Homo sapiens: one gene and its partners. The protein of the gene in region 6 purifies or fractionates together with the protein of the main gene of each other region. This does not show direct contact. Each region holds a gene or a part of one and is shown on either strand. Other genes may lie near its edges. The genes, in order: STRN, EIPR1, CLOCK, RPRD1A, GRIPAP1 and RABGAP1L.

What was found.
Region 1: the proteins of RABGAP1L (region 6) and STRN purify together in Homo sapiens (affinity purification with mass spectrometry, with the first as the bait; one large-scale study listed by BioGRID). This does not show direct contact.
Region 2: the proteins of RABGAP1L (region 6) and EIPR1 purify together in Homo sapiens (affinity purification with mass spectrometry, with the first as the bait; one large-scale study listed by BioGRID). This does not show direct contact.
Region 3: the proteins of RABGAP1L (region 6) and CLOCK purify together in Homo sapiens (affinity purification with mass spectrometry, with the first as the bait; one large-scale study listed by BioGRID). This does not show direct contact.
Region 4: the proteins of RABGAP1L (region 6) and RPRD1A purify together in Homo sapiens (affinity purification with mass spectrometry, with the first as the bait; one large-scale study listed by BioGRID). This does not show direct contact.
Region 5: the proteins of RABGAP1L (region 6) and GRIPAP1 purify together in Homo sapiens (affinity purification with mass spectrometry, with the first as the bait; one large-scale study listed by BioGRID). This does not show direct contact.

The regions. Positions count from the first base shown.
Region 1 is NC_000002.12:36,958,687-36,964,259, forward strand, and holds part of STRN (striatin), read right to left. Parts: intron 1-5,573. UniProt on the Homo sapiens protein: Calmodulin-binding scaffolding protein which is the center of the striatin-interacting phosphatase and kinase (STRIPAK) complexes.
Region 2 is NC_000002.12:3,259,319-3,264,891, reverse strand, and holds part of EIPR1 (EARP and GARP complex-interacting protein 1), read left to right. Parts: intron 1-5,573. UniProt on the Homo sapiens protein: Acts as a component of endosomal retrieval machinery that is involved in protein transport from early endosomes to either recycling endosomes or the trans-Golgi network.
Region 3 is NC_000004.12:55,426,687-55,431,013, forward strand, and holds the end of CLOCK (circadian locomoter output cycles protein kaput), read right to left. Parts: 3' UTR 1,217-4,327; downstream 1-1,216. UniProt on the Homo sapiens protein: Transcriptional activator which forms a core component of the circadian clock.
Region 4 is NC_000018.10:35,988,172-35,992,862, forward strand, and holds the end of RPRD1A (regulation of nuclear pre-mRNA domain-containing protein 1A), read right to left. Parts: 3' UTR 1,653-4,691; downstream 1-1,652. UniProt on the Homo sapiens protein: Interacts with phosphorylated C-terminal heptapeptide repeat domain (CTD) of the largest RNA polymerase II subunit POLR2A, and participates in dephosphorylation of the CTD by RPAP2.
Region 5 is NC_000023.11:48,987,607-48,993,179, forward strand, and holds part of GRIPAP1 (GRIP1-associated protein 1), read right to left. Parts: intron 3,505-5,573; coding exon 3,320-3,504; intron 3,127-3,319; coding exon 3,079-3,126; intron 2,398-3,078; coding exon 2,366-2,397; intron 2,277-2,365; coding exon 2,229-2,276; intron 2,105-2,228; coding exon 2,005-2,104; intron 593-2,004; coding exon 515-592; intron 272-514; coding exon 179-271; intron 1-178. UniProt on the Homo sapiens protein: Regulates the endosomal recycling back to the neuronal plasma membrane, possibly by connecting early and late recycling endosomal domains and promoting segregation of recycling endosomes from early endosomal membranes.
Region 6 is NC_000001.11:174,161,153-174,166,725, forward strand, and holds part of RABGAP1L (rab GTPase-activating protein 1-like), read left to right. Parts: intron 1-5,573. UniProt on the Homo sapiens protein: GTP-hydrolysis activating protein (GAP) for small GTPase RAB22A, converting active RAB22A-GTP to the inactive form RAB22A-GDP. Plays a role in endocytosis and intracellular protein transport.

The DNA of each region.
Region 1 (5,573 bases), on a different chromosome or scaffold from region 6:
TGTAATCAAAAACCCAAAAGGAGAAGAAAGGAAAATGCAATCGAGGACAAACCTAACAAGATAGCAACTGAGAAATCTGCAGAACTAATGAGAAGCCAATCCACAAATTCAAGGAGTCTAATGAAGTCCCAAACAAAATAAAAAGAAATATAGGCTGGGTGTGGTAGCTCACGCCTCTAATCCCAACACTTGGGAGGCTGAGGCGGGCGGATCACGAGGTCAGATAGAGACCATCCTAGCTGACACAGTGAAACCCCATCTCTACCAAAAATACAAAAAATTAGCAGGGCATGGTGGCGGGCGTCTGTAGTCCCAGCTACTCGGGAGGCTGAGGCAGGAGAATTGCTTGAACCCAGGAGGCGGAGGTTGCAGTGAGCCGAGATTGTGCCACTGCACTCCAGCCTGGGCGACACAGCTAGACTCCATCTCAAAAAAAGAAAAAGAAATCTATACTGTGACACATCATAATGAAACTACATAACACCAAAGACAGAGAAAATCTTAAATGCAACCAATAAAATAAGCTAGAAAGCAGTAAAACACAGTAAAATCTTTATGCCTGTTATCTAAAAAAAATAAATAAATAAGCATCAGTGTGGCTCTGCTTACCTCAGAAGGTTGTACAGTTTAAATGGTACAGTGTATCTGAAAGGGCTTTAAAGAAAACTGTAAAGAGTGCTGGCTGTAGCAGTACATATACTCAAATTGGAATGATACAGATGATTAGCCTGGCCCCTAGACAAAAAATATGAAAAAATAAAACTGTAAAGATATCTGGAGATGTAAGTGACAGCTTGTACAAAACCTATTTCATTCTTGGTCATTCAGCCTCCCTCTGAACCTCACTTTACCTAACTGAGCTGATTATTTCCAAAGTTCATTCCAGCTCAAAGATTACTCTGTCATTACATCTCAGTCAGAAGGAGGTGATTCAAATTATAATATTCTACTGCCTAAAAATAAAATGCTATCATCAGAAAGAACAATGGAAAAAGAAATTATATCCCAAATTCTATAAAAAGCCATCCATATAGGGAATACTAATAAAAGTGTTGAAATCACCAAACTTTTATAGATAATGTAAAAACAGAAAAAAACAACTAAAGCAGTGGTTCTCAATCCTTGCTGTATACTGGGGAGCTCAAAAAATACTAATGCTAGGGGTCCTCATTCCTAAGATTCTGATTTAATTGATCTGGGGTAGAGTCCAGGGAATTAGTATTCATTCCCTCTGATTATTCTAAGATTATAGCTAAGGTTGAGAAACACTGAACTGAAGAGACAAATAATAGGATACGTTTTAAAAGATTAAAGCCTCTATAACCTTTCTAAAATATAAAGATTATGAAATTATCAAGAATATGAGTAGAATGAAAAATGAACCTGCTGACAAAATTATACCATATGACAATGGAGTTCACCTGCTCCACATGTAAAGGAAGTGGCTTAAAGAGCCAAATAAAATGTAGGATTCATTTCATAATGTGGTTAGTAAATTTACACAATTTGTTACCCATGATGTAATGCAAAGTTAAGATAAACACATTCAGAAAAGTTTATATGAATTTCAAGGTAACAGATACCTACTGGGTTATTAAAAGGAAAGCAAATACACTTGAAGTATATCCTCAATGTTCTGAGGCTGACACTGAAGGCAACCATTCACTCCCATTAAATATCTCTTAGTGCCTGGGTCAGACCCAGAATATTACACTGCATGGCCTCAGGATGGCACTTGTATGCTCCAGCCTCAGAAAAGTTCATGACTGAAGATTATGCTTTTCTCTGGGGATGAGGAGATAACCGAGAGCAAAAGTTTAGCATCATGCATCTGCAACCATTTATTAAGCACTTACTTTATCTTATGTACCATGCCTCTGCTAAGTACTTTAAATTATCTTAATTTAATTCTCACAAGGTAATTTATTATCCTTAACTTACACATGAGAAAACTAAGGCTCTGAGAGATCAGAATTACGGCAAATATGTATTTTAGGCGTAAAATACAATAGTAAGTTTTAAAGCAAGAATTTTAAACCCAGGTCTCTGCCATATTGCCTTTTGTGATAATTATAAATAATAGTCACAATAATAAAGACAAACTCATTTTAAGTATTTATGTTTTCCATTAAAAAGCTCAGTAAATCTTCTCAGCTGTCCTATGAGGCTGCTCATTCTCTCTATATCCATGTATTTTTGTTTGTTTGTTTGTTTGATTGATTTGTTCTGAGACAGGGCCTCACTCTGGCACCCAGGCTAGAGTGCAGGGGCATGATCATAACGCAGTGCAGCCTTGATCTCCAGGGCTCAAGCAATCCTCCCATCTCAGCCTCACGAGTAGCTGGGACCACAGACGCATGCCAACGCACCCAGCTAACTTTGTGAATTTTTTGTAGAGATGGGGCTTCACCATGTTGCCCAGGCTGCACTTTTTTTTTTTTTTTTTTTTTTTTTTTCTGAGACAGGGTCTCCTTCTGTCGCCCAGGCTGGAGTGCAGTGGAGTGATCATGACTCACTGCAGCTTCAACCTCCCAGGCCCAAGCAATCCTCCCACCTCAGCCTCCCAAGTAGCTGGGACTAACCCGGCTAATTAAAAAAATTTTTTTTTCTGGAGATGGGGTTTTGCCATGTTGCCCAGGCTAGTCTTGAACTCCTAGACTCAAGTGATCCTCCTGCCTCAGCCTCAATCCCAAAAGTACTGGGATTACAGGATTACAGGTTTTGAGCCACTGCACCTGGCCCTCTAAAAACTGTTAAGTCATCTTTGACTCCCCTTTTTCTCAAACCCCACATTCTATCCTTTAGCACATCTTGTTGGCTCTACCTTTAAAAATGTATTCAGAATCCTGTATTTTGAATACGTATCAAATACATATTCACATATCTTATCACTACCACCTTAGTTCATCTTCTGCCTGGATTTATTAAAGTAGCCTCCTAACTAGTCCCCCTGCTGCTTCTACTTGTTTTCCCTCCAAGTCTGTTCTGAATCCTTACAAGGGGTCCCTTTTAAAGATGGTGTCACTCTTTTGCTTAAAACATTCCGACGGCTGCTCAGCTTGCTGAGGTATAAGGCCAAAGTCCTTACAATGGGCAAGACCCTGTCTGACATGACTTCTTCCATTAGTACCTGTTTGACATGACTTCTTCCATTCTCTTCCTCTACTCTAGCCACTTTTCCCTCCTTGATATTCCTTAAATATTCCAAGCGTGCTCCCTTCCCCCAGCTGTTCCTTCTGTGTAGAAAGCTCTTTCCTCACCTTAGAGATCACCTTTTCAGGTCTTAGCTCGAATGGCATCTTATCAGTGAATCCTTTCTTCCCCATTCCACCCTCTCAAATCCTCTTATTTTCTTTCCCAACATTCTATGTATTTATTTATCACTGTCTGCCTGCCTCAACAATTTAAGCTTCATAAGGGCAAGATCTGTATTTTTGCTGTTGTATCTCCGGTATCTAGAACAAGGTCTGGCATGAAGTAGATGCTTGAAAAATATTTGGGGAGTGAAAATACAAATTATTAATGCCAAAACCCAGAAAATACAAGTTATTAATGCCAAAACTCTAGCATACAGCCTCCACACCACATGCCCTAAGCTACTCAATCTTGCCACCTTTTTCATACAACTCTAACACTTACAGGTAAATATCAGGGCCTCTCCTACACCACACACCACACACATATCAAAATCTAGGGCCAACATTTTTTATTTTTTATTTACATGCCTGCTTTCTCATAAGTCAGTAATTTTCAAATACTGAGCCTTAGGTTCTCATGAACTCATAAAGTTCTTTACTCCTGCTATTCTCCCCATTCACTGCTGGCTCTTCTCTCCTTCACTATTCTTTTTTTTTTTCTTAAGATGGAGTCTCATTCTGTCGCCAGGCTGGAGTGCAGTGGCACGATCTCAGCTCACTGCAACCTCCGCCTCCCAGGTTCAAGCGATTCTCCTGCCTCAGCCTCCAGCACACACCACCATGCTCAGCTAATTTTTGTATTTTTAGCAGAGACAAGGTTTCACCATGTTGGCCAGGACGGTCTCGATATCTTGACCTCACGATCCGCCTGCCTTGGCCTCCCAAAGTGCTGGGGATTACAGGTGTGAGCCACCGCGCCCGGCCTCTCCTTCACTATTCTAAAGAAATTAGCCTTCTCCCCAAATGATAAACACTCTGATTCTTCTACAAGTTATATCGTACTAATAACTAGACTGCATGTTTCTTTGAGGTCATCTAGCACAATGCCTCACATACAGAAATTTTTCTCAAATATTATTAGTATTCCTTCTCCAATTCCTTTCACAAATGTAAAGCTCACTAATAATCTTAATCATTCTTTTTTTCCCCCCATGAACTACTGCCTAATCTCAACTGGATGTGAGGAGGGGAGCATTACCAAAAATAAAAAGAGAATTTATCAAATAAGATGAGCAAGAGTGAAATAAGTGACAAATAAATAGGTTTTTGCTATAACGTGGCCCTTTCCTTACTCCCAAGATCTGAAGGAGGGAGGAAGCAGTAAAGGCAGGCCAGGCAGATGAGAGCTTGGATTGCCTTTCACAAGTCTTCCCTGGCAACCTGAAAGAGCAGGACTGACAGGTTCTTGAAGAGGCAAATTTGACTTCATCTTAAAGGTATTTGTGTTGACTCTGGTGTTAATGGCTTAGGAAGAGATTTAAAAATTAAAAGGAGGACACCAACTGAGCCGTATTTCATCACAACGCATTCAACTATTTTACTTCCTATTGTGTTTCTAAGAAAATTCCAGTAGCAAAAGAAAAATAAAGAAGATTCAAATGTAACGATGGTAATAATTTTTTTTCCAATTACACTAATAAGGGGGGACAAAGACCAGAGATTACTGCAAACTCTTCCCCCCAAAATATATCATATTCATCCTGTTAGGAAAATGACACATTTTTAAAGTTTCTCTGTGGAAACTTTAATTGGAACACAAAACAGAAAATGCTGTCAAAAAAGTAGTGTCCTTGGCCGGGCACAGTGGCTCACGCCTGTAATACCAGCACTTTGGGAGGCTGAGGCAGGCAGATCACTGAGGTCAGTAGTTCAAGACCAACCTGGCCAACATTGTGAAACCCCGTCTCTACCAAAAATACAAAAATAAGCCAGGCATGGTGGTGCATGACTGTAATCCCAGCTACTTGGGAGGCTGAGGCAGAAGGATTGCTTAAACTTGGGAGGCTGAGGCAGAAGGATTGCTTAAACCTGGGAGGCGGAGGTTGCAGTGAGCTAAGACTGCACCACTGCACACCGGCCTGGGCAACAGAGCGAGACCCTCTCTCCAATAAAAGGAAAAAAAAAAAGGAGTCTCTTTAATATGATAAGCACCCATGGGAAAGCTACCTGAAGTTAATAAACATTTGCCACAAACAACCCAGGAAGGGGTGTTTGGAGATGTGTGCATAAAAACTGAAGATCAACTACAGTTACCAGTAAATTGAAAAGTTTAAACGAGGAGAGGGAGTGAACGGGGCGGGGCGGGGGGAAGGATGGGTTGGAATTCCCCAACTTCTACAGGTAGAAAGGTAAGCATTGTTTTCTGGTGTGTGTGTG
Region 2 (5,573 bases), on a different chromosome or scaffold from region 6:
AACATGGAGAAACCCCGTCTCTACTAAAAATACAAAAATTAGCTGGGCATGGTGGCGGCACCAGTAATCCCAGCTACTCAGGAGGCTGAGGCAGGAGAATCGCTTGAACCCGGGAGGCGGAGGTTGCAGTGAGCCGAGATGGTCACTCCAGCCTGGGTGACAGAGCGAGACTCGGTCTCAAAACAAACAAACAAACAAACAAACAAAAACAGCATTGGTTCATAGTGTTTTGCAAAGGAATGGGGGTGAGGTTGTCTTCTTGTGTCATGTGAACTCGCACGTGGCTAACATAGTTGATGCTTCTACCCACTGCAGTTCCCTTTTTTCATCTGTCCTGCCCGGAGGAAGCCTCCTCTGGCCCCTGCCTTTGACACTTCCCTAGCAGTGCTTGGAGCTTCCTTATTTGCCGTACACAGGAAAGTCTTTATCCAGTTCTTCTGGGGCATGGCAAGCTGAAGATGATTGGGACATTCATTACAATAAGGAAGCAGCCTGCCTATCCATCAGTGCTAATGAGCCGGATGAACGGATAAAGAAACATGGTACAAATGGAGCATTGCTCAGCCCTAAGAAGGAAGGAAATCCTGCCATCCGCAGCAGCAGGATGAACCTAGAGGTCTTGAGTGGAATAAACCCAGCACAGAGAGTCAGACACCACGCAATCTCACTTACATGCAGAATCTAAAAATACTGAAGTCACAGAAGCAGAGCAGGTGATAACAGAGGCTGGCGGGAGGGCGGATGGGGAAAAGGGAGATGTTGGTGAAAGGATACAAAGTTTCAGTTAAGGGGAGAAATGAGTTCCAGAGATCTATTGGATGTCTTGCTGACCACAGTTAGTAACAATGTATCATGGTAACTGAAGTTATTAGCAATGTATCATATACTTGAAAATTGTTAAGAGAGTAGATTTCAAGTGTCTTCACAACAAAAAATGATAAGTATGTAAGGTAATGCAAATATGAATTGGCTTGACTTAGCCATTCCACAATGTATACACATATCAGAACATTACTATAAATATATGCATTTTTTAATTAGAAAGTTAATGGTGCTGCAGCATCATTTGTTGGGGACACAGAGCCATCTGGAAATACTGGGTTCCAGGCCTCTGTGTGCTATTACTGGGGCAAGGAAACTGACAGAGGAGCTGGGTCCGGCACCGTGCCGCGTCCTGGGGAAGGCGCTGGCCGCACCGTGCCGCGTCCTGGGGAGGGCGCTGGCCGCACCGTGCCACCTCCTGGGGAGGGCGCTGGCCGCACTGTGCTGCATGCTTTTGCTGCATGAACCCGGCTCACCTAGGTGGTGCGATGTGATGTGGATAGGAGATCCTGGGCCCACTCCTGCTTGTTGTATAGTGCAGTTCTGTGGCTTCTCTGATTATGTGCTATTTGTAGTGGTGGGGCCGTTGAGGGGTGGTCTCTGGTCAGGGCATCAGGGCTTTGTTTTTGCAGCCAAGAAAGGCAAACTCATACTTGGACTAAGTGTCGGATGAACTTCTTCCTGTTCTCAGGATGGAAGGGGCTCCAGGCATCACCTTGCCACATGCAATACTGTGGGTGGGTCTCCAATTTCTCAGTCTTTTTACTTCCAGGCTTCTAACCAGTCACCAGGCAGTTGGCCATGCCCTTGAGTATGGGCCACTTTTTGCACGCCACAGGGATGGCCAGAGCAGTGCTGGGAGCCCTGCCTCATGATCACCGTTCTTCACAATCAGCTTTCCCTCCATGCTCTCCCAGCCGTCTCCTGAGCGTAGCCGTCTGACAGCGCCTGCCAATGTTTGGCTTATGCCCTCTCCCGAACTCATTGATCTGTAAAGCAGCTCAGATCTCTTCTCCTTCTTCAGCTAAAAGTACAGGACTCCCACATGGCCACAGGCATGAGTGCAGGGAGGGTCCGGGGCAGAGAAGTCTTGTATGGTTTGGGCACCTACCATGCAGTTTTCTGGTGCCCTCTGGTCCTGCCTGACTCTGTCCTGTGTGCACCGTCTCTACTTTGTAGTCAATCACTGCTGGCCCTGCCCGACCCTGTGCCGTGGTGGGTATGACTGAGCTCTTCTCATGAGTGACACGTGGCACTTGGTGCCCCATGGCCAGGAGCTCCATTATCAGGACCCAGAGGCATGGTCAGAGCTGTTTATCAAAAGACATGGTTCTGTGCTGCAGATGGCATGGCTTGCTCCAGAACCCCGGGACCACGTGGTGACTCCAACCGGGCTCTCCACAAAGTCCACACTGCATGCTTTCTACCACTGACAACTTCCACACCAGCAGGTCTACTAGGCGTCCCCAGAAGCAGGGCTGCCTCTCCCCAGCCTGATCTTGCTGTAGTGCCCTCTTGGCCTAAGCTGGCAGCCTTACGTGCTACCCCAGCATCTGGGCTGGTCCAGCCTTCCTAGGTGTATAATGTGTCACCTCTAGAATGAAGAGGGCTGGCAGGCATTACAGCGTCTTTTCTGCTTTTGCTCTGGAGGGGAAGTCCTGGTGTCCTCAGCAGAAGTAGCAGGTCCTGGAATTGCCATAGCTTGTGTTTCCTGCCGTCTTGCCAAGGTCTTCTGCACGCTCCTCCTACGTTGTCACTGTAATGTCATGAATGCAGTGGGTCCATGTGATGTTCTGTGGGCTGCCCAGGTCTGTTTGGACTATATTATGATAGAAAATGGGAGACCAGCACAGCTCTGTGGCAAGAGTGTATACTGTTTTCCTTTGCTTGTGAATGCGGATGGTTTCTCATCTTCTTTCTTCATTGGGATAGGACAGCGTGCATTTGACGGTCTGTGTACACACATCATGTGCCTGAGGGCCTGGGAATCTGCTCTAACAAGACTCCACAGCTGGCACTGTGGATCTGAGTGGGCTCCTGCTTTGTTGAGCTTAGAGTCATCCACAGGCATTCTCCAGGGCCCATTAGCTTTCTGCAGAAGCCAATGGTGAATTCAGCAAAGCCACACCCACTTCATATCCTTGATTCTTAAAGTAAGCGCAGGTCTCTACCACTCTTTGATGGGTTGGGACGGGGAGGCAGTTTCAGAGGCTTCTATGTGACCTTCCCATTAACTCCACAGGTCACAGGCCCGGTATGGGTATTTCACAAACTGCCCAGGATGTCAATCCCATTTGACCTTAACAGACCTTGGAGTTGCCCACCAGGTGCGCCCACAGACTCAGAGGATCTGCGGTAAGCCAGGCCCTGCCTAGGACTTTACTTATCACCTGGCATCCCCATGCCCCACTCGGGCCGGAGGACAGTGGGACACTGGGTTGCTGGACCCCTGTGCGTGTCTTTGTGTTCAGCAGACCTGGAAATGTGTGGGGATTACCCTTTGCCCAGGGAATGGCATTCAGGAAAATGGCCGTGGGTCCCTTTGGGTACAGACTAGGGTAATCATTGCAGTGTACACCTGCCCTAGGGTTGCAGGTTCCTAACCCGTGGGGAATCTGACCATCTTTACCGTCAGTGGGTTCCAGCTCTGAAGCTGCCTCAAATCTGGATCTGGGTAAGGGATTGTGACTGTGAGTGGGGTGACTTCCCTCAGCCTTCTGCTCATTCATTCTTGTTTTCTTTTTAATATGTATGTACGTTATGTACGTTTGCACTCATGTGTGCATGTGTCAGGCAGGCAGTACTCTCCTTGAATGCCTTGTCTGTTTCACCCCTAGGAATACCAACTCTATTAACTGTCTCCACAGCCCTCTGCCAGTTGAGCTTCCTTGGCCGGCACTCTGGTCTCGTTGGTCATTATGATAATTGCCACCCCCTGACTTCTGGCAGTTACATACCGTCACCCGACCACATTTACTTGGGGCTGGGTTTAACTGCCCAAGTCAGAAAGCTGGACAAAGCTTATTATCAACAAGCCAAGCTTTGTGACAGCTTCTTCTAAGAGTGGAATTATTGGGTCATCTGGTAAGTGAATGTTCAACTGCAAAAGTGTTTTCCAAAATGTGTGTACTGTTTTACACTCTTTTTTCACAATCCGTGAGAGATCCAGTTACTGTACATCTTTGCCAATACTTGCTATTGTTGGTCTTTTTTAAATGAAAATTTCACCACTCTAGTAAGATGTGTGGTGAGTCTCACATGGTTTCACTTTGCCTCCTTCCAATTATTAATAATGTTGAGCATCTTTTCTGGTGCTTGTTGACCATTCATATGTTTTCTTTTGTGAAGTGTCTGATTTGGCGTAAGGTACATTTAAAAAAATTGGGTTGTTTCATTATTAAGCTGTGGGAGGTCTTTATATTTATTCTGGATACAGGCCTTTTGTCAGATATATGTATTATAAATATCTCCCCCAGTCTGTCTTTTCTTTTCTTTTGTTTTCTTTCTTTCCTTTCTTTCCTTCCCTCCTTCCCTCCCTCCCTCCCTCCCTCCCTCCCTCCCTTCCTTCCTTCATTTTTTGAGATGGAGTCTCGCTGTGTTGCCCAGGTTGTAGTGCAGTGGCACAATCTTAGCTCACTGCAACCTCCACCCCCCAGATTCAAGCAATTCTCTTGCCTCAGCCTCCCAAGTAGCTGGGATTATAGGCGCCCACCACCATGCCCAGCTAATTTTTATATGTTTAGTAGAGACGGGGTTTCACCATGTTGGCCAGGCTGCTCTCAAACTCCTGACCTCATGATCCGCCTGCCTTGGCCTCCCAAAGTGCTGGGATTACAGGCGTGAGCCACCATGCCCGGCCACTGCTTCATTTCTTTAATAGTGTCTTTCTGAAAGCAGAGTTTTTCATTTTGATTTTAAAGAAGTTTTAAATTTTAATGAAGTCCAATTAATAGGGTCTTTTGGTGAATAGAAGTTCTTAATTTTAATAGATTCTATGTTATTCGTCTTTTTCTGTATGATCCAGCTTTTTTTCCTGCCATTTAAGGAATCTTTGCTTGTCCCAAGGCTGAGAAGATATTCTACTATGTATTCTTGAAAAGATTTGTATTATTTTATCTTTACGTCTTTATCATCAGTCTAGCTGGAATTGGTTTTTGAGTATGTTATGAGGTAGGATACAAGTTTATTTTCTTTCATATGGATATACAATTGATCCAGCATCATTTATTGAAAAGACCATCCTTTCTCCACTCTTGAGTGTTATTTTTGTAGTAAAACAAGTGACCATCTTTCTAAGGGTCTGTTTCTTTCCAGCTTCCAAAACTTCATTGCTCTTCTATCCTTGTGGGTTTATGTTTTTAAAAGAAAATAGAAAGAAAAACCCCTCTTTGTTACAACATTAGAAGGGTTTCAGAATGGAGTAAAAGTTGAAGTGAGTGTAGATTCTCTTATCTATATTTTCTTGGAGGTTCCTCCATTGCCTTCTCTACTCTGTGAAGTTGATGGACTGTGGGGAGAGAGGTGAATAGCGCTACATGAACCGGATACGTGGAAACTTCATTGTCCAGCTGGTCACTTAAACATTGTATCTGGTGTAGACTTTGAAGGGAGGTAGCTTACCTGAGAGTGGAAAATCTTACTTCACCTGTACCACTTTTGCTTTATTGAGGGCAACGTGGATATAGTTAAGGAGTTTGGTGAGCTGGCGTTTACAGGAAAGTCACTTTCTTTACACCTGAACAGAATTCTCC
Region 3 (4,327 bases), on a different chromosome or scaffold from region 6:
TATGAGCTACTACAAAGGTCCACAATGTAGTCTGCAATTTGAAGAGATTGTGAAAGAACCCAGTTAATCATCCAGCACTGTAGGATGCAGCAATTGTCCTACATGGTAACTCTGTGAGGAAGATGATAGCTACTACTGTGGAGATCTTAAGAGGAGTTTTCAGCTTAAATGCCAAGTTAGAAGTAGCACATGTTGGTAAAAAAGGTCATATTTGTAGTTTTCTGCTATAGGAAGTATCAAAGGGTAGAAAACAATGTCTGTGGATTAAGATAAACTCTGTGGTTAGACAGTCTATATTGCCTTAGATTGTTTGTTTGTTATAAAGAAAGAGTGAGGAATTCTCACTAGTATTTTTTTTTTTTTTTTTGAGAGAGTCTCACTCTGTCGCCCAGGCTGGAGTGCAGTGGTGTGATCTTGGCTCACTGCAACCTCCACCGCCCGGGTTCAAGCAGTTCTCCTGCCTCAGCCTCCCGAGTAGCTGGGATTACAGGCGTGCACTACCACGCCTGGCTAATTTTTTGTATTTTTAGTAGAGATGATGGAGTTTCGCCATGCTGGCCAGGCTGGTCTCGAACTCCTGACCTTATGATCCGCCCACCTCAGCCTCCCAAAGCGCTGGGATTACAGGCGTGAGCCACCATGCTTGGCCTACTAATACGTTTTGTTTGTTTGGAGACAATCTATCTCACTCTGTCACCTGGGCTGGAATGCAGTGGCGCAATCTCGGCTCACTGCAACCTCTGCCTCCTGAGTTCAAGCAGTTCTCCTGCCTCAGCCTCCCAAGTTGCAGGGATTATAGGTGCCCGCCACCACGCCTGGCTAATTTTTTTGTATTTTCAGTAGAGACAGGGTTTTACCATGTTGGCCAGGCTGGTCTTGAACTCATGACCTTAGGTGATCCACCCACCTCAGCCTCCCAAAGTGCTAGGATTACAGGCGTGAGCCACCGCACCCAACCGTTTTTTCTAATAACAACAGAAAAGACAATTCCTCGTAGGGAGTAGCTGGCACCATCATCGTGTAACCTCAGTTCAGGTAGCTTGGTCCCATTACTAGCTTCATATGCGAATAAGAACAGCATCGCATTCTGAGGCACCACAATCTTGTAGCAGGACATAATTCCTCTGAGAATTTTTGGTAAGTCAGACCTAAGCTATAAGGTAAAAATCGCTACTGCAATAGGCTCCATTGTTGAATAAAAGAAAGGGAAATGTCATTGATAGTGATCTTAAAATATTTAATAGTCTTTCTTTAAAATCCAAAATGTGATTCTTACAAGTTATGTGCCACATGAAGCAGGTGTTATTTTTTGAGAAATGCAGGTGATAACTGAAAAACATAGCACTGAGGTATTTTTTATTTTTAAAATTGAAGGAAACAAAGTCTGGATCTAATTATTTTTACATTTACAAAAACTGCTACTGCTTGGCTCTTTTGCTATAAGTTTAGGTTCTGAATACATGACAAGAGTATGGGAAAGAGCAGAATAATAGTACACGCAGTTTTAAAAGCTATGCACATCATAACCTGGAATAATGATTACACAGCAAGAGGCCTGAGTGGAGGTAGGCTAACAACACATTTTGACTTTCTCCTCAAAGGATAGCTTTGAAAAACAAGTGTAACCAATTGTTACACCAAATTAAAATGGCAATATTAAATCGGTAACAAAACGATCCACATTTTATACAATATTGTATTTCCAAACATACATAGGTCATGAAAATCAGAGAACCTAATATAGCACCGTTGAAACCATTCATTATCCTTCATGTGTGTATGCAATTCAGAATTTCGGCAGAAGACAACAAATGGAAAATGCCTTTCGTTTCTATAAATCATTTTGGATTTCAATTAAATCTTTGCCTTAGTAAAGGGTATTCTTATCTCAAGATCAATTAGCCGTTTTTAGCTCCACCGTTTTGGAAGTAAAAATGATGAGCTACATCTACTTTTTAATTTAAAACCAAGAACCAAGCAGTAAGGACAGCAATGTCAAGAATATCACATTGAGAACCACACAGAACATTATAAAGAATTTGGTGCATGTTTTAACAACTACCAACTGATGTTAACAATGAAAAATTTACAAAGGTAAAACTTTTTTTTTTTTTTTGCACTGACTGGTTTCAATACAGCACTGAATTTAACTCATCTTTGGGCTTCAATCTTTACATAGAGTGAATATGAAAATGCCATACTGAGGCCTTCCCCAACTTAAACCATAGTAAAGATTTCAAAATCATTCCAGTATGGTCTGAATGGTAACTGTTCTGGCTGACACATCTTTTTTTTTTTTTTTTTTTTTAAAAAGACATTTCCTGGCCAATTTTTTTGCTTGAAGATGATTGTCTGGTTATACAAGACATCAATCTGAAGGTAACAACTTATTTTAACTTAACTACTGGCATAACCATTGCCAGCAGTGAACTTGCACTAGTCCAAGCCAACTCAAAAACACACATTATAAACATTTGAATGTCATTTTTAAAAGCGATGTCACAGTTTGTTTCCTAAGAAATTTAAAAGCTTTTATTTGAAAACGTATCTTCAGTTTAACCCTCAGAGTTAAGAAATATTTTTTAGATCATTAAATTCAATTGTGGTTGACGTGCTTTAACTACCGTTCTCTAAGTTGTGTGCTATACCTAGCCTGTGGGACTCCATAGCTTCTCTGAGTCCTAAAGTGGAGGATTCTGTTCCAATGCTTGTGAGCAAGAAGGATCCTCAAATGTCTAGGTTTCCAATATTCCAACACTGCTTTACTGGGCAGTGCTGTGTATGGAAGTTTTGTTTTGTTTTCAAAGGACCAAGTAACTTGACACCATATTAAAGACAGCAAACATTTTTTGTAGAAGTTTACAGCCTGTATACATTATTCCGCCAAATTTAAGAACTTTAAATGGATTTTAATATGGATATGATAATGACAGCCATTAAAAGATGCTATTTCTTTTACTAACATTTCCCCAAATGGGCAAAATAGAGGCATCATGTGCCATTGGTTCTGTCATACTGGCCTTTGACTGTGTTGGGGAAGTAATCACACAAAAAGTGCCCATAAAACAAAGAAGGCAGCAAGTGAAACTAGAAAAAGGTTGGAACTGTATGAATCAGATTTGAAAGGAGTTATTTCTAAAATTCTTTCTTAGATGACTTGAGGAGGGAAGTGCAGGGGCATCTGGAGTTGGCCCCTCCACTGCCGTCCTGAAGTAAAGTAGATTCAGACTGTCCGTAAAGATTATCATGAGAGTTGGTGACTGCACCCCAAATCAGAGCCAGTTCCCTAAGAAGAATATGGTGCAAAACAAAACAAACCACACATTAAATACATGACACCGAAATCACTTTGATGAGAAAACAGAACACACAGGTATTTTAAAATATAAATAAATACATTTAGCCATTTTTATTCAAGAACCCCAGAGAACTGCTTTAAAAGCAATTGCTTCTTTGAACCCCTTTCTAAATTCTTTCATAAATACTTACTAGTTTGATTGTCACTTAATGCAGCACCTCAGTGTTTGCTGGTGGTGGTGATGGAATTTCACTTAGTTGTCTCTCCATAAACTATATCCTATTCCACTAAATAATGTTTCCCTGAGGAAACCCAGGCAGCTTACAAAATACTGTTATAAACACTCACAACAAAACCTGCAGAGTATTTTATTTAAGAAAAACAAGGAATGTAGTGTTATGACATAGGGGGAAAAAACTATGCAAAACAGTCACATGGAAAGAAAGTATTTTAATTTTTAAAATCCAAGTTTGCTTAATTTCTTGTGAACTGTTCAACACTGTTTTAAATATCCTGAATAACTGTGCCAACAAAATTCATCCCCAGTGTTTCCACAGGAGACATTAAAATTAAAGACCAAATTATACTATTTTTTTCCTTTAACCAAAGTATTCTTTTTCTCAGTCCTTTTTGTGCAAAAATATTACAAGAGCAATTCAAATGGAAATGCTGAAATGACATGCCAACATTTCAGGGCACATTTAAAACACTCAGAATAATTCTTGAAATTATTATATTCTAAAATGTTACTAGCAATCACTTTTAGATTAGTTCTGTACATCTACTCACACGGATGCAATTTTCCTAGACCTCTGAAAAATAAACAGGCTCATTGGTCTCTTTTGGTGTCCACACAATAGGCAAGATAGGTTTACAATAGTGTTTAAATCAAACTAGGCATCTACAATCTCTTGACTCCACCACATTCAAAACAAAAATCAAAGTTCATTTGGCTATCTTGAAATCACTCCCATAAACCAACTACGGTTCACTGGACCTAAACATTTCTCAGAAATGTGTCATTTTATA
Region 4 (4,691 bases), on a different chromosome or scaffold from region 6:
TGATCCACCCACCCTCAGCCTCCCAAAGTGCTGGGATTACAGGCGTGAGCCACCGCACCCAAGCCTGCTATGTACATTTTAACTAAAAAAAAAAAAAAAAAAGTGTAACATCCTCTCACAAGCCCCCATCCTTCAATAGTGCGTTTAGCTGACATCTTGCTTTTTAGCTTGAATACTTGGATAACGTTAATTTTACTATCACATGAAATGTTATGCAAAATGTAGACTTGGTGATGGTGGAGCTGCAACAGAACATATCAGTGTAAGAGGAAGCATCATATAGTGGTTAAGGAGCACCAGCTTGGAGTCAAACTTGGAGCCAGGTTTGAATCTCATCTTCACCATCTGACTCGTTCAGAGTCACACAGACCTTACATTATTTTCATTGCCCAGATATAAAAGTGGAATAATTAGAGTATTTACCACAAAGGATAAGCGAGGTGCTTGGAACAGTTCCTGGTGCACAGTAAGTACCATATATGTGAGCTACCATTATCATCTGTTATAGACCATATATTGCTTTGTAGGGCATGTTTCTCAAAGTGCAGTCTATGAATTACCTGCATTAGAATCATCTGAGTAGCTTGTTTAAAATGCAGATTTCTGCATCTATCCCAAATCTTCTGAAACAGAATCTCTGGGTATGGGTTCCACTGTATAAAACCTATTGCAGAAGCAAAAAAGTGGATGGGAATGGGAAGTATCTGAATTCAGATAAAGTGACCAGATGCCACCCAGGAATAGAGAACCAGGGGTGCTGTGGCCAGAGGACTACATTTCCCCAACTTTTTAGATGATGGTAAGAATCACAGAAAATTTTCTCAGTAGGTATGTATCCTTTTTGTAAATGCTCCAATTGAGTTTACCAAAAAGTATGGCACACACTGCCCTGGAGATTCTCACAGATTTCTAGTATCTTCAGTTTTGCTTTAAATTCAAGGAGTGGTAAAAGGGCATGGGCTCCAGGAGGTTGACAGTACCAATTGAATCTGTTCACTCAAAAGCACTTAATAAAGCACTACTAAGCAGTGGACCACAAAAGAATATGTGATCTTGTTCTTTTCCCATAAGGAACTTGCTATATAATTATAAAAACCATACTTTATTATCTTATTACCTGGAATTTGTTTAGAGCAGTGGTTGTCAGAATGTGGTCCCTAACCCCAGTGGCATCAGCATCAAGTTGTTTGAACTGTAAACCATCAGGCCTTACCCCAGACCTACTGAATCAGAAGCTCTGGGAGTGGGGCCCAACTATCTGTAGTTTATAAATCCTCTAGGTCAGGGATGTCCAATCTTCTGACTTCCCTGGGCCACCCTGAAGAAGAATTGTCTTGGGCTGCACATAAAATACACTAATGATAGCTAATGAGCTAAAAAAAAAATCTCATAATGTTTTAGTTTACAAATTTGTGTTGCACCACACTCAAAGCCGTCCTGGGTCACGTGCAGCTCACAGGTTGGACAAACTGGCTCTAGGTAATTCTGATGCTCGCTCAAGTTTGGGAACTACTGGCCAAGTAAATCTCCTCCTTCAGCAGTCTCTCTACCATAACATCAGAATTATTTCCAGTACTTTGCTTCCCTCCCAGTCCATTAATCTTTCCCCTTCCCACCCCATATCCAATGAATCAGATTCACAAAACAACCTACACATTTCAAAAAGAACATAAAACTTTATTAAGAACATCTTATACTGTCATCAGATACAGCCAAAGAAGAACGGGTAAACAAACAGGGAAAGTTCATCTTCCCATGTGCTATTGCCACCTCAGAACAGACTCCTGTGTGGATGGCTGGAACAACAGTTGGCAACAAATGCTCTGTATAAATAATTCATTAAGTAACACAATGTTTCCTTTCTATACAGAGAAGAACTGGGCTTACATTTTAAGTTTTGATATAGTGCAACAACTATGAAACAAGACTACATCCTTAGGAGCTATTTCTTAATAGAATACAAAGCAGTTTAGTAGCTTTATGTTATTTCAGATAATGTAATTTTTTTAATGAAAAATTCAGAAAGGACATTCTAACTTTCCCAATTAGTTAATTTGTACTGTTGAGTTTTTTCTCTCTAAAGATTTCTCAGAATCAGTTCAGTAACTATACTTTAAAAAGATGAGTTGCTCATCTACAGTGATAACTGACAACTTAGTTTTGTGATTTTGCAAATCAAGATGCCTGGGTCATCCCCACTTTTGCTGATTCTGAAAGATTTCTTATAGAAAAACCCTGATTCAGAGTGCATGTGATAGGAGATACCAAAATAGCTGCATCTGGACAGGGAGGTTGGCTATTGAGCACAGCTGATTCTCAGATTCCTGGTTCCCCTCTATGGTCCTTTTACTTACTGTAGTGATGGAAGGAGAGAAGGAGCGCCCGAGAATCTGTTCAGATTGTGACTCCAGACAGCTCTCTGCACTGTATGTGGAGAAAAGAGTGATGGCATCCATTCAAACCATAGCAGCCCTACGGCACCATGCTTTTCTCTTGAGGGGTCAGACCAAACTGCACTCAAAGATGCATGATCTGCCTCAGGTGCACAGTGGAGAAAACGCTCATGATTTACAATTTGGTATTATAATACCCCCAACTAATCCCATTTCTTGAGAAAATGAAGTCTTCCTTTTAGGAAGAATGTTTGCTGCTAAGGCTTACCATGTTAATTATCACACGGCTGAAAAGATGACTTCTAAATCAGACTGTATTGTCTGTGTTCAGTTAATACGTTAACCAACAACTGAAGTTTGTGGAGGATTGGTCGAGGGGTGGGATTCAGGTTTTTGAGTACTATCACTTATCACAAATCTCATCAAGCTCTTTAAAAAAATAATGCATTTTTATCATAAATATTTAGAGCAGATACTGGCATTAAAATCAGTATCTAAGTCAGAAGTCTGTCTGAAATGGTGAAAATATTTCAACAAACTTCTAAAAGATTTCAAATCTTCCCAGGAGTACATAGTTTATAAATTAGTTTTAAATGGAAAAAAATATATATTTTGAATGGATAAATCACCACTTTAGCAGATCATAAATAAGGTCAAGATATTGAAAATAAGTTAACATACAAGTTTTTGCTTTCACATTAATAATAAAAACTAACTTACTTAGTATACTTTCATAACATGTACAACCAGGTTTCATAATTGTGCATCTGTCACCTCCCCACTTGGCTGAATCTTTTTCTTCCATTTCCTACACCTAGGGACAGAGGTACACAGACATCCCAGGGTGTGAGTGTGGCTGCTGCATGCTGTGTCCTAGTTAGAGCAGTGTTACAAATGCTGGTCAGGATCTATGATTAGTAACCTGTGAACCACGTTACAAGTGAAGGACATTCATGGTTAGGTGGATTCAGTTCCCAGGTGAGCTATCAGCGGTAGTGTTAGGGAACCTAACTACTATTCTTTCTGTGAGAAAATGCACCCCAAGTCCCAAAAGTTGACTAAAAACTTTGGAATAAGCCATGTATTATTAGTAGTGCATGGATGAGCACTACTTATATGTGTCTCTGTTTTGGAGAGAGGTCAAATTGTTAAAAGAACTATTTGCAGAACTACTTGGCTATTAAAAATAAATGTCTGCCTTCTTCATATGCAATTCATTGTAACTATAATTTCTAATACTGAGAAAGAAACAATGAAGCCATTCAGACTAGAGAGACATAATTGGCTTGTGGGATTTTCAAGATGTTTTATTGACTATCTAATTTGAATCTACTTACAAAGAGAAGAAAAATGTCTAGTATGTAAAGCAATGAATGAAAATAAATGTTTATCCTAAGTCATTATTGAGTACAAATCCACAGCTTAACAATGTGTTTTTAACAGCAGGAGAGCATGCAACTGCTCTAACACACAGGGTCAGAAATAAAAGGTAAAAGTACATTTGTTTTGTAACTGTAAATATACAAATATAAAATTTACCATATCTACCCTGTAGTGTGGCACTGCTTAACTGCCAAATATACAGTCATTCAAAAACCTTAAGGAAACATTGAAAATGTCTCAGGCTACTTTACTGAACATTAACGAATATTGTGTTCTTGAGCTATTAGAGCTAAAAGTATTATTTTTAAAGTTATATGAGCAAGGGAATAATAAAAGTATCATTTCACGTGTCTTTTAATCCCATAGACGGCTTTTTGTTAAAGGGATTAATTATGTTAAAAGGAAACTGATTTGACAAATAGAAACCAGTTCCAGAACCAAAGTTGTCCTCTTGGTAGAATGTCAAAATGTATATTATTTCCAAAGTATTTTCATTATTAATCTACTCAAATAATTACAAACAGTTTAATCAAGGGAGTCACTATTTAACACTTTTAAAATCTACACTGGCAGTTGGAATGGAACTTTTACAATGCTATTAAGGAACAGTTCTCTAGACTTTCATCTGCCCCTCAAAGTGACATCCCTGTTTTATGTTAAATTACCGACCTCTAAGGAATCAAAGGCATGTAGAGACACAGAATTGATATTTTGTTTGGGGAGAAGGGTAAAGATTATGTTGGAACATTTAGTCCCTTCTACAATCAAGTCCTAACTATACCATAATAAAGTCTCAATCAACTCCTAATTAGTTCTTCCCCTTCAGGAATTACATAGTATACAGTGATTAAATGCTGAAGAAAATAAAGAAAAACAATTGAAAATACCTGAAGAAATACAAACAAGAGATTTCTC
Region 5 (5,573 bases), on a different chromosome or scaffold from region 6:
AAAAAGTAGGGATGGATGGCCAGAGAGAAGAGGGCTGGACGCCAACAGAAAGGAGCAACAGAAACAAAGACAGGAGAACAGCATGGGGTCCAGACCACCCTACCCTGATGTGGACCAGAAGCAGATGGAGATGGGGGAACTGGAGAGGGATCAGCAAGGGCCCCCAGGTGTTCTTTACCTGCTCCAGGGCAGCCAGGCTAGTCCTCAAGGCATTGTTCTCAGCCAAAAGCCCTTCCACTTGTTCCTGTGCATCTGCACTCTGGATGGATACCTGGCCCCACGTCCACAGCAGGTGAGAGTGGGTCCAGAACAGGGGGACAGGACCTACCCACGACCAAGAAAGAAAGGACACACACACACACACACACACACACACACACACACACACACACACACACACACACGAAGGCCTGGGGGAAGCAGGATCCCTGGGACCTTGCCTGACTATGTAGTACCCACTCAGGCTGCCCCCATCCTGAACCCCAGCTCCCTGAGCCCACGCAGTACAATATACCTGATCTTGTAGGGCCCGCAAAGCTGCTGCATGTTCCAGGCGCTCCCCCTGCCGCTGATCTCTCAGCTCTGCCAAGCTCTGTGGAGACCAGGGGAGCCCATTTTACACCTCAGCCTCTCCTGGGGTGCATATAACCGTACAGACTCTCTGTTTGACCACCCAGCAGCATGTTCTCAGCACCTGTGGGTCTCAGACTATCCAGCCAACAGCAATCTCAGGTTCACCCAGACGCCAGGTCACTACCCTCAGGGGCCTCAGACACAGTCAACCCCTCTATCCCAGCGTACAAGATCTCAGGCACGACTAGACTCCTGGCCCTAGCTGCTACGCGGTTCAAACTCACTCAGCTCCCATCCATAAGAAGTCTCATGCTCACCCAGATTCTAGCTTGGGAGCTCCAGGATTCTCAGACACAGTCAGCCCCATGGATCTCAGATGTAGTCAGCACCCAAGGATGACAGTTTCACCCAGCCTCCCAATCCCAACCACCAGGGGTTTCAGACACACTCATCTCCCACGTCCCTACTTCCCAGGTGAGATCCACCCAAACTCATAGTCCCAGATCCTAGAGGTCTCAAACTCACAACCTCCTAGTTTCCAGGTCCTGGTGAACTCTCAGACTGACCCCTTCACCTGTCACTCTGCTCCCCAGTCTCTTGGAATCTTCAGACCCAGTTAACCACCAGTTCCTGGGGGTCTCAGCTTTACCCAGACTCCCGTCTCAGACCCCATGTTCCCAGTTTCTAGGGACTTCAGAACCACAAGCCACCATATCCTCCATTCCAAGGGACCTCAGACTCACCTTTTCTAGAAGGAAACCCAGAGGCTTCAGAACCATCCAGCCCCCAGTCCTCAGGAGCCTCAGACCCACCTAAACTTCTGCTCCAGCCCCTGGAGGTCTCAGACTGACCAGCTTTTTGTTCACAGCCCTCAAGGATCTCAGGACTACCTAGCCCATATGATCCCACTTCCTAGGTGTCTTAGGCCCAAGCCAGCGCCCAGATCCTGAGGATCTCAAATGCACTCAGCCTTCAGCCCCAACTATCTCACCCTTGAAAGTTGTATATCTACCCAGCCATGTCCTCAGCCCTTGGGAGTCCCAAATTTACTGACATCCCAGCCCCTAAAGATTTCAAAGTCACCCAGCACCCAGGGAGTTCAGACTTACCCCAGTTCCTGGTCCTAGGCCCTAGTGACCACAGATTCATCCAGACTGTGGTCTCAAACCTCCAGGAGTTTCAGATTTACACAAACTTATAGCACACAGCCCCCTAAGTCCTTAGCCCCCTGAGATCTTACACTCATGAAGACTCCTATAACAATTCCTAGGGCTCTCCAATTCCCATTTTCCTAGCTCCTGGGGGGCCCCAGAACCCATTTCCAACACAGGAAATCTCAGACTCCCCAGCCAGCCTCCATGGACCTCAGACCTCTCCAGGCTCCCAGTCCTGGCCCCTACCCCAGGGATCTCAGAACCCAGTCCCCATCACCTGATTGGCAGCCTCAAGTTCCTGCTGCAGCTTCTGGGTTCGAGCCAACTGGGCTTTGTGATCAGCTTCCTTCCGTTGTTGTAATTCCTCAATCTTGTTCCTAGGAGTGATGGGGAGGGGGTGTGTTGGACATGGCTTGAGGCCCAGTCTCCTAGCTCTGCCCCTGTAATCTTCACTGGGCACTGTCCCAATTGTCCACCAATACCCGCAAATCTGGCAGTTACCTGCTGTCATTAAACAGAGTCTCCTTTTCTGTCTGCAGACGGCAAAAACTGGGCACAGAAGGACAGATGTAGATGGGTCAGTTCCGTAAGTTAATTCCCCCCTCGGCCCCCAGTACCCTTGGGAAAAAGAAATTTACCTTTCTTGTTTCTTTTTCAGTTTCTCGGAGAGCTGGGGAGAGAGGTACAGACAAGTGATAACATTGAGAATAATATAAAGACAAACCTAAAATTAATAAATATAGACACTTCTTATTAAGTCATTTTTGGAAGCCAGGATTTACTTATGTTGTCTTGTGGAATCCTCAAAATAGCCCTGACAAGTGAGTAGTACCAGTTTTACAAATGGGGAAACAGAGTCTTGGAAAGGTTAAGTAATTTGGTTGCTCAGCGGGTCAGCAACAACAATATTATCTCCACCCAGATCCTTCAGGTTCCAAAGCCCGGTATTTATGCTCCCAACATAGTGGCCAATGGCCATGTTATAGATTGGCTAGGCTGGGAGGCCTGGAAAGCAGGATATCATGACTGGGTGCCGCACCCCTGGGTCTCCAGGTCCTAAGATAAGAGCCAGGAGTCTGTAAATGCTTGCATGAATGAATGAATGAGTGAATGGGCAAAGCTGAGAGATGGATGGGATGAAACTTATCATGCACAAGATATAGTGGGACCACATTAACTCATTCCATACTGAAAGTAACTCTGAGACATAGGTGTGAGTCTCTCCATTTCACAGATGATGAAACCTAGGCTTTGATGGGGTACAATGCCCCTTCTGCCCTAGGATTGGGAATGGAATGGGAAAGAATCCAGCAGATTGGGAGCAGAATGGGAAAGAGCCAAGCAGCCGCACCTTAGCAAGTTCCTCCTGCAGCCTGGATGTTTCGGCCTGCTTTGAGCTCTGCAGGGAAGGATGAGGGATGGGAGGGTTGTTGTTAGCAAGGACAAGGAGAAGCCTTCCCCTGCCCTCCTGCCTCCCTCACCCCATCAGCCCACAAGATGGTGATGTCACAGCCATCTCCGTGGGACTATAGACAGAGGTAGAACATCTGCCCTGCCTTCTGGCATTCCAGCTCCAACAGACTCAGATTCACCTCTAAGCCTTGCAGCTGTTCCCAGAGCAATCTCTTCTCCTCTTTCTCCATTTCCCATTTCAGCTCCACCTCTGCCAACGGCATGGGGGCCAGGACGGTGGGGGCCAGGCCCCCTGGGGGATCCCCCTGGCCCTCACTGACAGCTGAGAACTTCCCGGCTTCTTTCCCATAGCGTTCCTGCAGGGCTGGTGAGTAGAACAGGGATATATGATGGATGAGGTGGTCTCTGAAGTCCCTTGCCATGCCTCGAATAGAGGGAGAACTGGCCTTCAACCCCTCAGGTGGCAGAGTCCCTGTGCCAAATGACCACATGCCTAAAAGACGAAGGTTCAGCTCTATCCATGCCTCTCACATTTTTTTCTTTTTTTTTTTGAGACAGGGACTTGCTCTGTCACCCAGGCTGGAGTGCACTGGAATGATCACAGTTCACTGCAACCTTGACCTCCTGGGCTCAAGTGATTCTCCCACCTCACTCTCCCAAGTAGCTGGGATCAGAGGTGTGTGCCATCATGCCGGGCTAATTTTTTGATTTTTTTGTAGAGACAAGGTCTCGCTACATTGCCCAGACTGGTCTTGAACTCCTGAGCTCAAGCAATCCTCCCACCTCAGCCTCCCCCAAAAATCTTTTTCCGTGGCTGGGCACGGTGGCTCACGCCTGTATCCCAGCACTTTGGGAGGCCAAGGCAGGTGGATCATGAGGTCAGGAGTTCAAGACCAGCCTGACCAATATGGTGAAACCCCGTCTCTACTAAAAATACAAAAATTAGCTGGGCGTGGTGGCGCACGCGCTTGTAATCCCAGCTACTCGTGGGGCTGAGGCAGGAGAATCGCTTGAACCCAGGAGGCAGAGGTTGCAGTGAGCCGCGATCGAGCCATTGCACTCCAGCCTGGGTGACAGAGTGAGACTCCGTCTCAAAAAAATCTTTTTCCCTAGACAGTCTTGCTCTGTTGCCCAGGCTGGTGTGCAGTGGTGCAATCATAGCTCACTGCAACCTCAAACTCCTGGGCTCAAGCGATCCTCCCAAGTAGCTGGGACTACAAGTGCACACCATGCCCAGTTAATTTTATTTTATTATTTATTTATTTGTTTATTTTCTTGAGACTGAGTCTTTCTCTGTCACCCAGGCTGGAGTACAGTGGTGTGATCTCGGCTCACTGCAACCTCTGCCTCCCAGGTTCAAGTGATTCTCCTGCCTCAGCCTCCCAAGTAGCTGGAATTACAGGCATTTGCCATCAAACCTGGCTAATTATTGTATTTTTAATAGAAATGGGGTTTTGCCATGTTGGCCAGGCTGGTCTTGAACTCCTGACCTCAGGCGATCTGCCCACCTTGGCCTCCCAAAGTGCTAGGATTACAGGTGTGAAACACCGTGCCTGGCCTAATTATTTTATTTTTAGTACACACAAGTTCCTGCTATGTTGCCTAGGCTGGTCTTAAACTCCTAGCCTCAAGAGATCCTTCTGCCTCAGCCTCCCAGAGTGCTGGAATCAAGGTATGAGCCACTGTGCCCAGGCTCTCACAAATATTTTAAGCCCTATCAACCACTAAGATTCTGTTTACTATTAAATTAGCCCAAGCTGGTTTCACAAATCCCATTCTCAATCCTTGAAGCCCCACCCATAGCCCTTGAAGGCCATGCCCACCATATGCTACCACTGACTTACAGCTGAATCCCTCCTAGAGCCTCCTAATTCCTACTCACATTCTACTAAGTCTCCCTCCTGGTCATGGAACCAGCATCCATCACCACAGAAGTCCCAGCTGCTCTCCAAAGTTCCACACACCACATGCTCCCACACTCTATCAAGCTTTCTTTCAGCTTTCATCCCAGACCCCACTTACAATCTGGGCTCAGAATCTTCCCAACACTCCATTCACTTTTTCACTTAGCAAATATCTCCTTTTTTTTTTTGAGATGGAGTCTCGCTCTGTCGCCCAGGCTGGAGTGCAGTGGTGTGATCTCGGCTCACTGCAAGCTCCACCTCCCAGGTTCACACCATTCTCCTGCCTCAGCCTCCAGAGTAGCTGGGACTACAGGCGCCCGCCACCGTGCCCGGCCAATTTTCTGTATTTCTAGTAGAGACGGGGTTTCACCATGTTAGCCAGGATGGTCTTGATCTGCTGACCTCGCAATCCGCCCGCCTCAGCCTCCCAAAGTGCTGGGATTACAGGCGTGAGCCACCGCGCCCGGCCGCAAATATCTCCTTTTTGACATTCAAGCTGCTAATCTGTAACATCTGCTAGGTACCAGAC
Region 6 (5,573 bases):
GAAGTAGATAAAGCAGGGCAGAGTTTATATTTTAACATATTATGTAGCCTACATTTGCTCTGATGTGTATTATTATTATTATTATTATTATTATTATTATTATTTTTGAGACGAAGTTTCGCTCTTGATGCCCAGGCTGGAGTGCAACAGCGCGATCTCGGCTCACCACAACCTCCGCCTCCCGGGTTCAAGCGATTCTCCTGCCTCAGCTTTTTGTGTAGCTGGGACTACAGGCATGCGCCGCCACGCCTGGCTAATTTTGTATTTTTAGTACAGACTGGGTTTCTCCATGTTGGTCAGGCTGGTGGAACTGCTGACCTCAGGTGATCTGCCCGCCTCAGCCTCCCAAAGTGCTGGGATTACAGGCGTTAGCCACAGCGCCCGGCCTCTGATGTGTACTAGTAAGTCATATGGGGAGAAGTAGATGAAATAGGGTAGAGCTTATATGTGAACATATTATATAACCTACATTGTCCTCTAGAAAGCTGGAAACAAGTTAGTAAGTCTCAGTACTATTGGGGCATATGGTGAATATACAAACCAACCTAAAAAAGTGTGACTGTAAATAGATGAAGTTTGTTTGTTTCTTTTAAAGAGACAAGGTCTCGCTCTGGCGCCCAGGCTGGAGTGCAGTGGCTCAGTCCTAGCTCACTGCAGCCACGAAGTTCTGGTCTCAAGAGATCCTCCCACCTCAGCCTCCTGAGTAGCTGGGACCACAGGCACATGCCACCAAACCTGGCTAATTTTTTGTTTTATTTTTGTAGAGTCAAGGGTCTCACCATGTTGCTCAGGCTAGTCTCCAACTCCTGGCCTCAGGCAGTCCTTGCGCCTCAGCCTCTCGAAGTGCTGGGATTACAGGCCTGAGCCAACGGTGCTTGTCCCATTTTTTTTTTTTTTCACCTGAGTTATTTGATGGGAATTTCTATATATTACAGTTGCGATGTTCTGAGAATTTTTGTTTCTTTGATAATTGTTTCATGATTTAGATGTTTTCTTTTTACGCTGGTAGTTATGATTTTTTTTTCCTTTGAATGAAAGAATTTTATTAGGCATGTGAAACAGGAGTTTTCATGTGATCAGCTCTCCAGTTCTAAATTTGTGACTTTTAAAAAACTTGAATTTTTTTCTTTGCCTTAACCCAAACTTGAATTTGCTCAGCCATTGTATATTTATTTGAACTCTCAGATGATACAGCATTGAAGCAGAAAGTCCTTTTATCCATGCTTTTGGAGTAATCAAAAGAAGGAATTCTGTTGTGCCAAGTAAAAATATGTGTGGGAGATAGCTAGGCTTCAAGAGATTGACTTTGAAGAGAGTAGTGGCTAAGTAGCAAAAATTTCCTATATTGAAGGTGTAGAAGTGGGCCTGCATTCCAACCTACCATTGTCTTCAAGTGGGGTATGGATCATTATGACTGGTTAGAGGGGGTTTGGAGAATGAAGTTGTTGCTGTAAGCCTATGGGATTCCCAGGCACAGAGCTTGCTTATGTCTTAATTTTAATGAGTTCTATATTTTTATAACTCTTGACTTATATAAATGGGTCAGCCGTTGAGTCTGAGGATGACCAGCAGCCCAAGGCTATTCCAGGTGCTGGTATTTCTTTTTTTTTTTTTTTCTCTTTCTGTTTTTTTTTTTTTTTTTTTTTTTTTTAATTATACTTTAAGTTTTAGGGTACATGTGCACATTGTGCAGGTTAGTTACATATGTATACATGTGCCATGCTGGGAATTGAACAATGAGATCACATGGACACAGGAAGGGGAATATCACACTCTGGGGACTGTGGTGGGGAGGGGGGAGGGGGGAGGGATAGCATTGGGAGATATACCTAATGCTAGATGATGAGTTAGTGGGTGCAGCGCACCAGGTGCTGGTATTTCAAAGATGGCTCAGGGGTTTCTTGTGGAGATGATCTGATGAGCATTTTGCCATTACAAACAGTGGAGGCGGAGAAAGTACGGACTTGAGCCTGAGTTATGGTAAAACATACTCATTTTTAAAGGAGAGTTTTAATGCTGATATTATAGAGAAAGACATTGTTTGACTCCTAGACTTTCAGAACGGGAAATAATTTTGACTTTATAGTCAGTATTTGAATTGGGTATAAGTATGTGAACATCAGTGGACCCTAATAAGGAAGAGTTAATGAATTAAGAAGAGCTTGCATCTCTGAACATCTTCTTTTTATACTTCGTTTACTTCCCATATTGCTCTTATTCAACAGATGGGATGGCATAATTGGGTATACGAAGTTTATGCGCATGCTAACTCTTTTTTGTTATCTTTTGGTGTTTTTTGGTGTACTTTTTGGGGATTTTCCTGGGAAAGTTCTAGGCATATATTCAGTTGATTTAGAGTTAGATTTGGGCTAAGATTATTAGTATACTTGAAATTCTGAGCCTTCTTATTTTCTAAATAGCTTTTAAAGTAGAAAACATTTGCCAGTGCTGTTGGGCTTAAAAAAAAAAAAAACCCAACAACAACACAATTCTTTATAAATACTCATGAAAAATCTGGTTACAGGCTGTGTTGTGATAGACATAGTACAGCCAAAAATATATTTAAGAAAATTCTCACCCAGTTTAGTAAGCTTAAATAAGAGGAAAATAAGACAGTTTTTTTTTTTAATAAAAGGCTGATTTTCCCAGAATATGAAGCCTAACAACTGTTTGCTGTGTTATTTTCCCTGTTGCCTGTTCTAAATTCAGCAAGAACTATGCATCCCTAGTCCATGGTAAAAGCTTAGTTCCAGTAGGTGATTCTTAGTAATGGAAGTCTCATTGAGGGATGCAAGGGAATTTGATTGGGAAACATCAGGCATGGAACATTTACTTTTTACTGCTCTAATTTTCTGTGTATCTGGGTATTCAGTGGGGTGGGAACATGAGCACAAATACTAGAATTATCTGGATTTTTTTTTTATACTATGGATTTCCTCCTCTTACCCCCTACCTGCCCCCCAACCCATTGCTAAGTGAGCCATTGATAGTAGGAGTGTGTTATATCCTTCAGGTATGTAGGGCTGAACAAATGCTAAAAACCTTGGCACTTGGCTGATATTCCATAAACCAAATTCCTGCTCTGTGTAATTTGCCTTCTGGTGATATCAGTTTGTTACTCCCATTTTTGAAGAAAAATATGAATTGTGGTGAAGAGACATCTGTAACCAAGAGTAAGATTTATCAAATTATGTAGTATACATGAAGGACACCAGGAGATTGTTTACCTGAACATTTATTAAACTCATTTGACTGTGACCCACAATAAAAAATACATTTTACTACTTGATTCCGCAAGCGCACACACACACAAAGTTGAAAGTTTGGTGAAATAATATTTATCTTTTCAGGGCCCTACTGAGTTAGCTATAATGGCTTGCAAGACCAGTTGTGCATATTTCTTCCTATCTAGCTCTTTGTCCAGTGACATCATGTTGGTAGCTCAAAATTGGTCATGGTGGGAATATTTACACCAGGAAATTCAGCAAATGGTATTCTTAGGGCTTCCCTCCTCATAGGTAGTTGTTAAACATTTATAGCACCCCACTGCTTATAACACACATTGATATATTCTGTTATTTCATTTCATTTTAAAAATGCTGGGTTTTGACTTCCAAATTAATTTTACACCCAGCTAATGGATTATAGCCTACATTTAACAACAAATACAACTAGTTTAGCCTACCCTCTTAACTTTGTAAGTGAAGGAACATACTAAGAGCCTCAAGGCCAAGGTCAGATAGTGAGTTATTAGCAAAGCCAGGGCTCTGGACTCAATCTGGAGTTGTTTCTGGTGGGCTTCTTTCCTAACCTCACTTAGTGTGTATAAGGGATTGTGTTAATCAGTTTGAATAAAGATGGACCTTGACCCTGAGGACTTTATGCTTAGGTGGGGGATTAAATATGGAAACAACAGTGATAATGAAAGGCAGAAAGTAATGGGTGGTAAAAAGATAAAGATAAGGAACTATAAGAGTTTAGAGAGGAGGGAGAGATTACTTTTATTTTTGTTTGTTTGTTTGTTTTTCGTTTTTGACCCAGGCTGGAGTACAGTGGTACAATCTCGGCTCACTGCAACCTCTGCCTCCCAGGTTCAAGTGATTCTCCTGCGTCAGCCTCCCTGAGTAGCTGGGATTACAGGCGCCAACTGCCACACCAGGCTAATTTTTGTATTTTTAGTACAGACGGGGTTTCGCCATGTTGGCCCGGCTGGTTTTGAACTTCTGACCTCAGGTGATCCATCCGCCTCAGCCTCCCAAAGTGCTGGGATTACAGGCGTGAGCCACCGTGCCCGGTCTACTTTTAGTTTTAAGGATAAAAGAAGAGGTGACATTTGAACTACTTTTTTTTTTTTTTTTAATTTGGAGACAGCATCTCACTCCCGTTACTCAAACTGAGTGCTGTGGTGCCATCACAGCTCACTGCATCCTTGATTTCCTGGCCTCTAACAGTTCTTCTGCCTCAGCCCCCAAGTGGCTGGGACTATATAGGCACACACCAACATGCTTGGCTAATTTTTCATTACTTGTAGAGACGGGGTCTCATTATGTTGCCCAGGCTGTTCTTGAACTTCTGGACTGAAACTGTCCTCCTGCCTCGGCCTCCCAAAGTGCTGGGATTACAGTTGTGAGCCACCACGCCCGGCCCCTGAACTATGCTTTGAAGAATGGGTAGGATTTGGACATGTGGAAATAGGACAACTAGTATGAGAGAAAGGCCTTTCTGGGCCAGGGGCCAGGGTGATCAAAGGCATACAAGCATAGACAGGGAAAAATGAGTAGTGAAAGAGCTAGGCAAGAAAGAGTCCGTTAGCACCAGATGGTTAAGAGCCTAGAATGCCAGTTTTCCTTTCTGCTTTTCAGTTTATCTTTCATTTTTGACTCTGGAGTAATCTAGTACTTCTTAACATTGAACAGGATTTATATGTTATGATTAAAATATGATCCAGAGAGCACATAAGTATCCTTAGAGTAGAAGCTGAAGGGAAAAATTATTAGTGTTAGAGAAGCAACCTTGAGTTTACCAATCCTAAAAGTGTTGGAAAGTGAAAAATATTTTATTTGTAAGGAGAGACAGTGTTTTTTTTTTGTTTGTTTTTTGTTTTTCTTCATTAGCGTCAAATTGGCTGTAGTAGAACAGGAAGCAGTTTTGAAAGTCTTTACAAGGGCCTTCTAAAATGTGATTTCTAAATGACTGGATCTTAATTTTTGGAGGCAGGTTTAGTTCAGGCAGAAGGGTAGTTTATACAGATCTGCAGCTAAGCTGAGTAGCTTTTAGAATTTAGGGCAGCAAAGCAGGGTATTTTATACAAAATCCACTTGTAAGGAATTGATGGCTTCTTTATTCCAAGAATTTTCTTAGATTTCAGCATTTATGTCTTTGACAGCCTGTATGACTGAAGATGTTTTGAAGTCTTGGATGGAACTTGCCTTGTTTCACAGGGGAATTGGGTAGCTAGAAATGAAGGTATAAATGCCAGTAAGTTGTGTCTGTTAATCAAGTTGAAGTACTGGTGGCAGTTCTCAAGCTTTTCTGTCTGCTGATGATTTCACACTTACTGCTTCTAATTAAAT